2 separate regions of the Homo sapiens genome follow, and region 2 is linked to region 1. The links come from fine-mapping of genetic effects on gene expression. A gene starts in region 1. The other region holds a variant in brackets. All regions are shown on one strand. Distances are between the middles of the regions.

Region 1 (4,439 bases):
CTGCACTCCAGACTAGGTGACAGAGTAAGACACTGTCTCAAGAAAAGAAAAAGAAAAAAAAAAAAAAAGCATGTTCTTGGATTCCACCTCTGACTTACTGGGGATGGAGAAGTGAATTTCTTTTTCTTTTTTTTACTAAGATGGAGTCTCTCACTGTCGCCCGTGCTGGAGTGCAATGTTGCGATCTCGGCTCACTGCAACCTCTGCCTCCTGGGTTCACGCAATTCTCTTGCCTTGGCCTCCCGAGTAGCTGGGATTACAGGCACACACCACCACACCCGGCTAATTTTTTTAATTTTTAGTAGAGACAGGGTTTCATTATGTTGGCCAGACTGGTCTCCTGACCTCGTGATCTGCCTGCCTCGGCCTCCCAAGGTGCTGGGATTACAGGCATGAGCCACCGTGCCCAGCTCTGGAAAAGTGTGTTTCTAATAAACCTCCCTGGGGTGATTTTAACAATTATCATCATTATTTTGAATCGGTGAAACATACACACAGTGAAACATACACAGTAAAACATACAAAAGGTTCAAAGTGTGAGTGAAAAGCAAGCATTCCACCTCATTTCTCAGTTGTCCAGTTCTGTCCCCCACTACACCCCAGAGGCAATCACTTTTCCTTGGGGGGACTCACCATGCTGAAGTTTGAGGGTCACCGTCATACATATGAGATAGACCAAGATGGGGGGCTCTCTGCACTCCAGAGCTCACAGCAAAATTGCAGGTAAGACCACCATTCAAAGACAAGTGCCTGAGGAAGGGGTCTCAAAGTCACCAGCAAAGATGCCAGCGGCTCCTGCTCAGTGCATGTCTGCACCTCCTATTTCTAGGACCTTCCAATCTGCTTCCTTCTGGGGACCACTTCACGTAGGAAGCAGTCCCTACACAGGTTATCTTGTCACAAGCAAAGATCAGGAATGGATAGGTGGGTAAGGGGAGAGTAAGACGTGATGGTGAGCTAAGAGGAGTCTGCAGAGAGGTCTAAGCTTGAAAAGTCTGGACAGAAACCCAATGTTCAGTCTTTCCATTTGTATTTCTGATTATTTGTAGTAACCATCAACTTTCGTCATTTGGATAGATTCTTAAGAAAAAAAAAAAATCACTGATGGCTGGGCACAGTGGCTCACGCCTGTAATCCTAGCACTTTGGGAGGCCGAGGCGGGAGGATCCTGGCCTGAGGTCAGGAGTTCAAGACCAGCCTGACCAACATGGTGAAACCCCGTTTCTACTAAAAATACAAAATTTAGCTGGGCATGGTGCGGGCCGTGGAATTCCAGCTACTAGGGAGGCCAAGGCAGGAGAATCGCTTGAACCTGGGAAGCGGAGGCTGCAGTGAACCAAGATCACGCCACTGCATTCCAGCCTGGGCTACCGAGTGAGACTCAGTCTCAAAAAGGAAAAAAAAAAAAAGCGGAAAAAAAAATTCGCTGATGTTTTAACCATTCTGGGGTCACAGCCTCCTTTGTTATGGACCTACTCTGGAAAAATGCACAGACAGGTAAACCTCTGCGGAAGCCTCACAGACTGCCAGCCTACCCAGGGATCCCGGGAGGTCCAAGTTCAGAATCCCACTTTGAGATGTTTCTTGTACTAAAACGCTTGGTTTACAAAAAGTCTTCCCCTATTTGTTTAGAGAACCCGAACGATGTCGTCACTGGCAGCGAAGCGCCTTGGCATGAACCGTAGGCCAGCTGGCTCAGGAGGTGGAGGCGGTGAGGCGGCCACTTGGGGCCACCGCTTCTGGCGGCCGCAGGAGCGACCCACAGACAGGTAATGGCTGCCATGGGGGGCGGGGCGTCGTCTTTAGCCTTTAGCGCCCCTGTGCTTCGTGCGCATTTCGTGGCCTCTGGGTGCCGTACCTGCTTCCCACCCGGCTTTCCTGGGTGGCGGAGAGCGAACCCACCCCAGCCTGGGTTGGGGGAGGGGGCGTCGGCGCAGGGTCCCGTGGGCAGAGCTGCGCTGGGAGCTGGCGGGCTCCGCATTCATCATTGTTCCTCCAGCGCCTGGCACGGCTGGGCCGAAGCAGAGACCGTGGCCTGAAGCGCGCCATCCCCTTCGGAGTTGACCGACCACCAAGCTCTTCCGCCCACAGGTGTTGTCAGAGCTCCTTCCACCGGCCGGACCTAGGAAGGACCCAGGGTCCAAACATGGCCCGAGGCTGGCCGAGAGCACAACAGCCGGCGGGCGCTGACGGGCACGGAGCGCACGGGACCGCGGAGGAACCCGCGCGCGCCCCCGCCTCGCGCCGCGCGCACGTGACTGCGCCCCCGGCCCCGCCCCCGGCCTGCCCCCCGCCCCCACTGGCCGCTCGGCCGCGCGCGGGTCGGCCGGCTCTATGGGGAAAGCGGCGGCTCCGAGCCGAGGCGGCGGCTGTGGCGGCCGCTCCCGCGGGCTCTCGTCGCTGTTCACGGTTGTCCCCTGCCTGTCGTGCCACACGGCGGCGCCGGGCATGAGCGCTTCCACGTCCGGCTCCGGGCCGGAGCCCAAGCCCCAGCCCCAGCCCGTGCCCGAACCGGAGCGGGGACCGCTGTCAGAACAGGTGTCGGAGGCAGTTTCGGAGGCAGTGCCAAGATCGGAACCTGTGTCCGAGACGACGTCTGAGCCGGAGCCAGGGGCTGGGCAGCCATCGGAACTGCTGCAGGGGTCGCGGCCGGGGTCAGAGTCAAGCTCAGGTGTAGGGGCTGGGCCCTTCACTAAGGCCGCATCGGAGCCGCTCTCCCGGGCGGTGGGGAGCGCGACCTTTCTCAGACCCGAGTCAGGATCGCTGCCAGCGTTAAAGCCCCTGCCTCTTCTGCGACCAGGACAGGCGAAGACTCCTCTTGGGGTTCCAATGTCGGGGACTGGCACGACCTCCAGTGCCCCACTGGCCTTACTGCCTCTGGACAGCTTCGAGGGCTGGCTTCTCAAGTGGACCAACTATCTGAAGGGCTACCAGCGCCGCTGGTTCGTGCTGGGCAATGGTTTGCTCTCTTACTACAGGTATGGAAGCGCCAGGGTGGGACATGGGGGTTGGAGGGTGGTGATGCTGCAGGGATGGTGATGGAGGGCCTCCATGGTTGGCGGACACTGCCACTAGTCTAGAGATGTTTAGGGGCATGCATTCCAGCAGGCCAAGTCACGCTTCTGGCCCGCCGCCAAGGGCCGGGGGCCCTGACCTCTGGCAAGGGTGAATGTGATCTGCGGACATGACCTCTGGCAAGCTTGGGTTTTTGGGCAAGTGGGGAGGTGGAGTAAGGGAGTGATCTGGGGCCTCAGTTCCCTTCTGCTTGGCAGTTGTGGGGCTTGGGGCAGCTAGCTAGAGTCAGCCCCTCAAAGTCCTTGCCCTTTCTGGTTCGGGAGCTAACATCATTGTGTGTTTGGGATTGAGGGAGAGAGTCACCTTGTTCAGTCCTTAGGACCCACACTCTTAGGAAGGGCTGCTTATTCTTCCCGCCTGGGGCAGTTACTCCCACCTTTCCTGATGCCTCTGGTTGCCAGGCCTTGGGCTGGGCACCACAGACTCACAGATGTATTGGACACGGTTCTTGGCCTTCAGGAGTCCATCTTGGCATTTTGCGGAGAGCTAGGAAGTGTTTTGCTGCCCTCCTTTCTTATTCCAGACCCAGCACGGGATTCAAAATTAAAGTCCAGTGGTGAGAGAGCTAACACTGTCTTCCCACTGAAACTGGTTGAAAGGAGGTTACTGAAGCCTCCCTTTGCTTTCTTACTGGCTCTTCCCTGGGTCTGCTTCCTGGGGATGGTTGGTTTAAGCCTTGAGAACTCAGATCAGTCTATGCCAGTGGTTCTCAAACCTGAGTGTGCATCAGCATTCCCTGAAGAGCTTGTTGGAACACAAAGTGCTGGGCCTCCCCAATGAATTTCTGTTACAGTGGGCCTAGGGGAAGGGCCTGAGATTCGGATTTTCTAATAACTTCCCAGGCGTGGCTGGTGATGCTGGTCCAGGACCACACTCTGAGAAGCACTGTTTCATTGCTGCACACAAAAGGACCTTGACTTGCTGTTGCTGAAATTCAGGTCACTTCACTCACTTCATTCAGCCAACAGTATCCCTTCAAGTCACCCACTACAGGGTTTTGTTTTTTGTTGTTTTTGTTTTTGAGACGGAGTATTGCTCTGTCGCCCAGGCTGGAGTGCAGTGGTGCAATCTTGGCTCACTGCAACCTCCGCCCCCCAGGTTCAAGCAATTCTTCTGCCTCAGCCTCCTGAGTAGTTGGGATTACAGGCGCCCGTCACCATGCCCGGCTAATTTTTTTTTTGTATTTTTAGTAGAGATGGGGTTTCACCATGTTGCCCAGGCTGGTTTCGAACTCCTGACCTCAGGTGATTCGCCTGCCTCGGCCTCCCAAAGTGTTAGGATTACAGGCATGAGCCACCACACCGGCCTCTCCTGTCTTACAAATGAGGAGTTCTGAGGTTTGATGGGGAGACACAGAGCCCATT
Region 2 (4,000 bases), 170 kb after region 1:
TTCTCCTGATCTCTCTGTCCCTTTGAGGGGACCTCTCCCTGCCTGTCTCTGCAGAACAGACTGTGCTCATGGGTAATCATTGGCCCAAGTGCCTTCTCATCCTGCCCCAACAACACGGCCAGTGACTTGAGGCCAGAACAAGCATGTCCCTGTGTCCCTGGGGACCTGAATTTGGACCTTAAGGGCTGCTTACTAAGGTGTACTCTTGAATAACAAGTTATACAGAAATGTGGCTACCTGCTTCCACCTGCCACACAGAAGGATGCTAACATGCTTACAGTTAGACTCACTGTACCTCTCACCAGCTCTTGCTTACAGAGCAGGGGTCACATTTGGGCTGACCCGCATCTGCATTGGGCATACCCCCTCAAGGCCCTCCCCGTGTTGAGCCGGGGGCCATTCTGATGGACAGGGGGCTGGCCGTTCTGGTTATTAGATGTACTGAACCTGGAAGATGACGTGTGCCTCAGGGACAGGTGGTAAGAGCACAGGCTCTAAAGCCAGAGACCTGGCTACTCAGGAATTTCCTCACCTCATGGCCCTGGGCAATTTCAATGTACCTTTCCGTCCCCAGATCTACCTCACGGGGTCTTCGCAGGCATTAACTGAGGCAGCGCCTCACCCACAGCCTGGCACCCGGAAAGGTGTGGTACACATCAGCCGTTAGAGCCTTTCTAAGGCTGATCCAGAGAAAGGGAGGCTTGTGAGCAGACAGAGCTGGACTCAGATCCCAACCCTGCCCCTCAATAGCTGGGCACTAAGCTGGTGGCTTGGCCTCTCAGAACCTGCATTTTCTTGCCTGCAGGGAGGGAAGAATAGCCACTGTCTACTGACCTCTACCGTGAGGCCCAGAGCAACAGCTTACGGAGCCAGTGGCCCAGACCCTGGCCCAGCCCGTGTGGCCTCCAGACGTCTGGGGGCCGCAGTTGGGCTTCTGAGTGCAGACACGCTGTGGCCTCTCAATGGCCTTGCCAGGGTAGGGACTGTCCCATCCCCAGGCAATAGATGAGGAAATTGAGGCTCTGAGAGGTGAAGCCATGCTCAGGCCGCCTGGCTGGCCACTGTCTTCCTTCTGGGCTGCTGGGGCCTCCATGAGAGGGGCAGGCGGTCATTTGAATAACAAGTTATTGTCATTTGGGGGCTGCAGTTGTGATGGGAGGCTCCCTGCCTCCTGGCTGGATGCTGACCCAAGCCCCTGTGGCCAGAGGGGGACAGGGTATGCCGTGGGCACCCTCCTCAGCTCCCCTTGGCTTGGGCCCCATGCAGCTGGCTGGCCTGACCCTGCCATGGACACCACGTGCACTCGGAACAGTGACTCAGCCATGTCCACCCCCGTGTACCTTGCCTGCCGTGGGAAGAAACGTTCTCTCACAGTATGCATTATTTTTCAAAAAAAGTCTTATATCTTGGGTTACAGATTTTCTTCATCTAAAAATAGTTTTTAGCTGATTATTTCTAAACAAGGCATTTCAGAAACCCCTTGGCAGTTACAGGCTCTGGGACTCACTGGGTGGTGTCAGCCTCTTGGTGTCCTGTGCCATTGTTAAACAGCAGCCTGGCCCTAGGCCAGCTGCCTCCTGCCCCACCTGCTGTGGTGCGCCACCCCCCAGAGACGCCCACAGCCCCATAACCCCAGATGCAGGCTGGGCTGGCAGGAAAGGGGCCCTGGGCAGCTGCGTGAGAGAGAGGTAAGAGGGGGCGTGGGAGCTGGCAGAGGGCACAGCCTGCCTCTCTCATGGAGGCCTCAGCAGCCCGGAAGGAAGAGGGTGGCCAGCCAGGCAGTGTGGGTATGACTTCACCTCTCAGAGCCTCGATTTCCTCATCTGTCACCTGGGGATGGTCCAGTCCCTACCCTGCAAGGCCATTGAGGGGCCACAGCGTGTCTGCACACAGAAGGCATTCTATCAGTGAGAATGGCTGTGTTCCTGCAGGGAGATCGGTGAAGGGGAGCCTCAACTGTGACATTGGGCCTTTTGGCAGACTTTGTTTTTGTTTGTTTGTTGTTGTGTTTTGGGTGTTTTTGTTTTGTTTTGTTTTTTGAAACAAGGTCTCATTCTGTTACACATGCTGGAGTGCAGTGGCACGATCATGGCTCACTACAGCCTTCACCTCCCTGGGCTCAGGTGATCCTCCCACCTCAGCCTCCTGGGTAGCTGGGACCATCAGCATATGCCACTATGCCCGGCTAATTTTTCTATTTTTTGTAGAAGACAGACTTTTGTCATGTTGCCCAGGCTCTTTTGGCAGAGTTTGGACAGAAGGTGGCATTGGGCTGGCCCTCAAAGGGGTGGGTGGGGCAGGACCTCTGGTGGGGGCAGATATGAGAAGGTTCCATGCAGTGGGGACATGG[C/T]GGGAAAGGCCCCAAACAGGAGCGCTCAGGCCTTTGCAGGGAACAGGGGACAGATTGGTGTGGCTGGGGGATGGGCATGAGCAGAGAGCAAAGTGAGGTTGACTGGACGGGGGTGATTGGCTTGGGGTAGGCCTGCGATGCTGAGAAAGGAGCCCAGGCTCCATTCTGGGGGCCTCTGTGCCCAGAGAGCAGTCTCCACCTCTCCACCCAGCAGAGCCCATCCTTCCCTGCACACCACAATGTAGGGAGCTGGCGCCCTGCATGCAGGTGGGTGCCTGTAGGCCTGCCGCCTCCAAAGCCCAGTCCCGGCCCTGCCATTCAATCTGGGCTCTCTTTACAGTCCTTCCCACTGACTCAGGTGGGCCCTTGCCCACCCCACCCTGGGAAGGCTGGGCCAGGATGGGGCAGGCACCTCACCCCGGCCAGGAACAGGAACGGGCACCATCTCGGGGACTGATGTTTTTTGAATGGCGCTATCCACCCTGCCCTGCTCGGCCTGGCTGTGCAGGCCTCTTGGTACCACGTCTGTTCGTAATGACCGTAACAACTCTATTTTCTTCCACAGATGACTCTGGGGACGACGACGAGGCTACCACCCCAGCCGACAAGAGCGAGCTGCACCACACCCTGAAGAATCTTTCCCTGAAGTTAGATGACCTCAGCACGTGCAATGACCTCATCGCCAAGCACGGCGCTGCACTCCAGCGCTCCCTGACAGAGCTGGACGGCCTCAAGATCCCATCTGAGAGTGGGGAGAAGCTGAAGGTGGTGAATGAGCGGGCCACCCTCTTCCGCATCACATCCAATGCTATGATCAACGTGAGTACCCACCCCCACCGCCCTGGCACGGGGCTCCCTGGCTCCAGCCCCGGGGTCCCTCGGTGGGTGACCAGGGTCAGCTTGAAGGGTCAGCGTTCCATTTCCTGCGGTTCCACGGTGTTTCCCAAAGCCAGCGCCCCCCAGCTAGCTTCCGAGTTCTTAAATCATCTCCTTCACTCGGCCGTCGTTGGGCAAGGACATTCTTCCTAATTGTCTGGAGGAAACGAGTTGGTTGTGGACTCTGGTGCAGTCTGCAGTTATTTACTTCATGCCTCGATAAGGAAGGTCGGGGCCCCAAGTTAAGTAGCTAGCCCAGCAGGTCAGTTCTGCCCACACAGTAGGGACACAGCTGCCACACTGGCCCTCGGTGGCTGCTACTCCTCCTCCCTGGGTTCACTCCCCAGATGCAGTGGGAGCAGACGCTGTGCACAACAAGGGGAGGGTGTGGTGGGGGGCTGCAGTCGAGGGCTCCCTGAGCTAGAAGGGCCTCAGAGCTGAGCCTGCCGAGGTCGTGCCAACCTGATGGTAGACAAAGCAGGTAACCGCAGTTGTAAACTAAGCAGCCCCGCCACAGGAGTCAGCCGCTCACCCTGGCTCTGGAAGCCACACGGCTAGGACTGGGAGCCAGGAGGGTGTCTCGATGGTGGTAGGAGGATAGTGCTTGGCCCTGCTTCCCTCTTTCTGTCTGGGGAGTGTTCCCCAGAAGTGTGCGTGCTCCTCCAGGCCTCCACCCTCCAGACACAGGTCTGACTGCAACAGCCTCCTCCCAGGACAGTCCCCCAGGGCGGCACATCTGGGCCAGGGGTGCAGTTGTAGGAGCTTGGGGTGGCC

The links.
Region 2: its variant is fine-mapped to the expression of OSBP2 in whole blood (TOPMed, PIP above 0.99).

What each region holds. Positions count from the first base shown.
Region 1 is chr22:30,692,576-30,697,014 of GRCh38, forward strand. It overlaps OSBP2 (oxysterol binding protein 2), which reads left to right and starts at 2,299. Exons shown (of 14, transcript NM_030758.4): 1 at 2,299-2,978. The coding sequence starts at 2,335. RefSeq lists silencers at 1,972-2,051, 2,436-2,485.
Region 2 is chr22:30,867,514-30,871,513 of GRCh38, forward strand. OSBP2 (oxysterol binding protein 2) reads left to right here. Exons shown (of 14, transcript NM_030758.4): 3 at 2,916-3,169. Among named protein-coding and RNA genes, the nearest start is that of MORC2-AS1, 53 kb to the right of the region's middle. RefSeq lists enhancers at 506-1,042, 1,043-1,578. The variant C/T (reference allele first, on the strand shown) is at 2,351.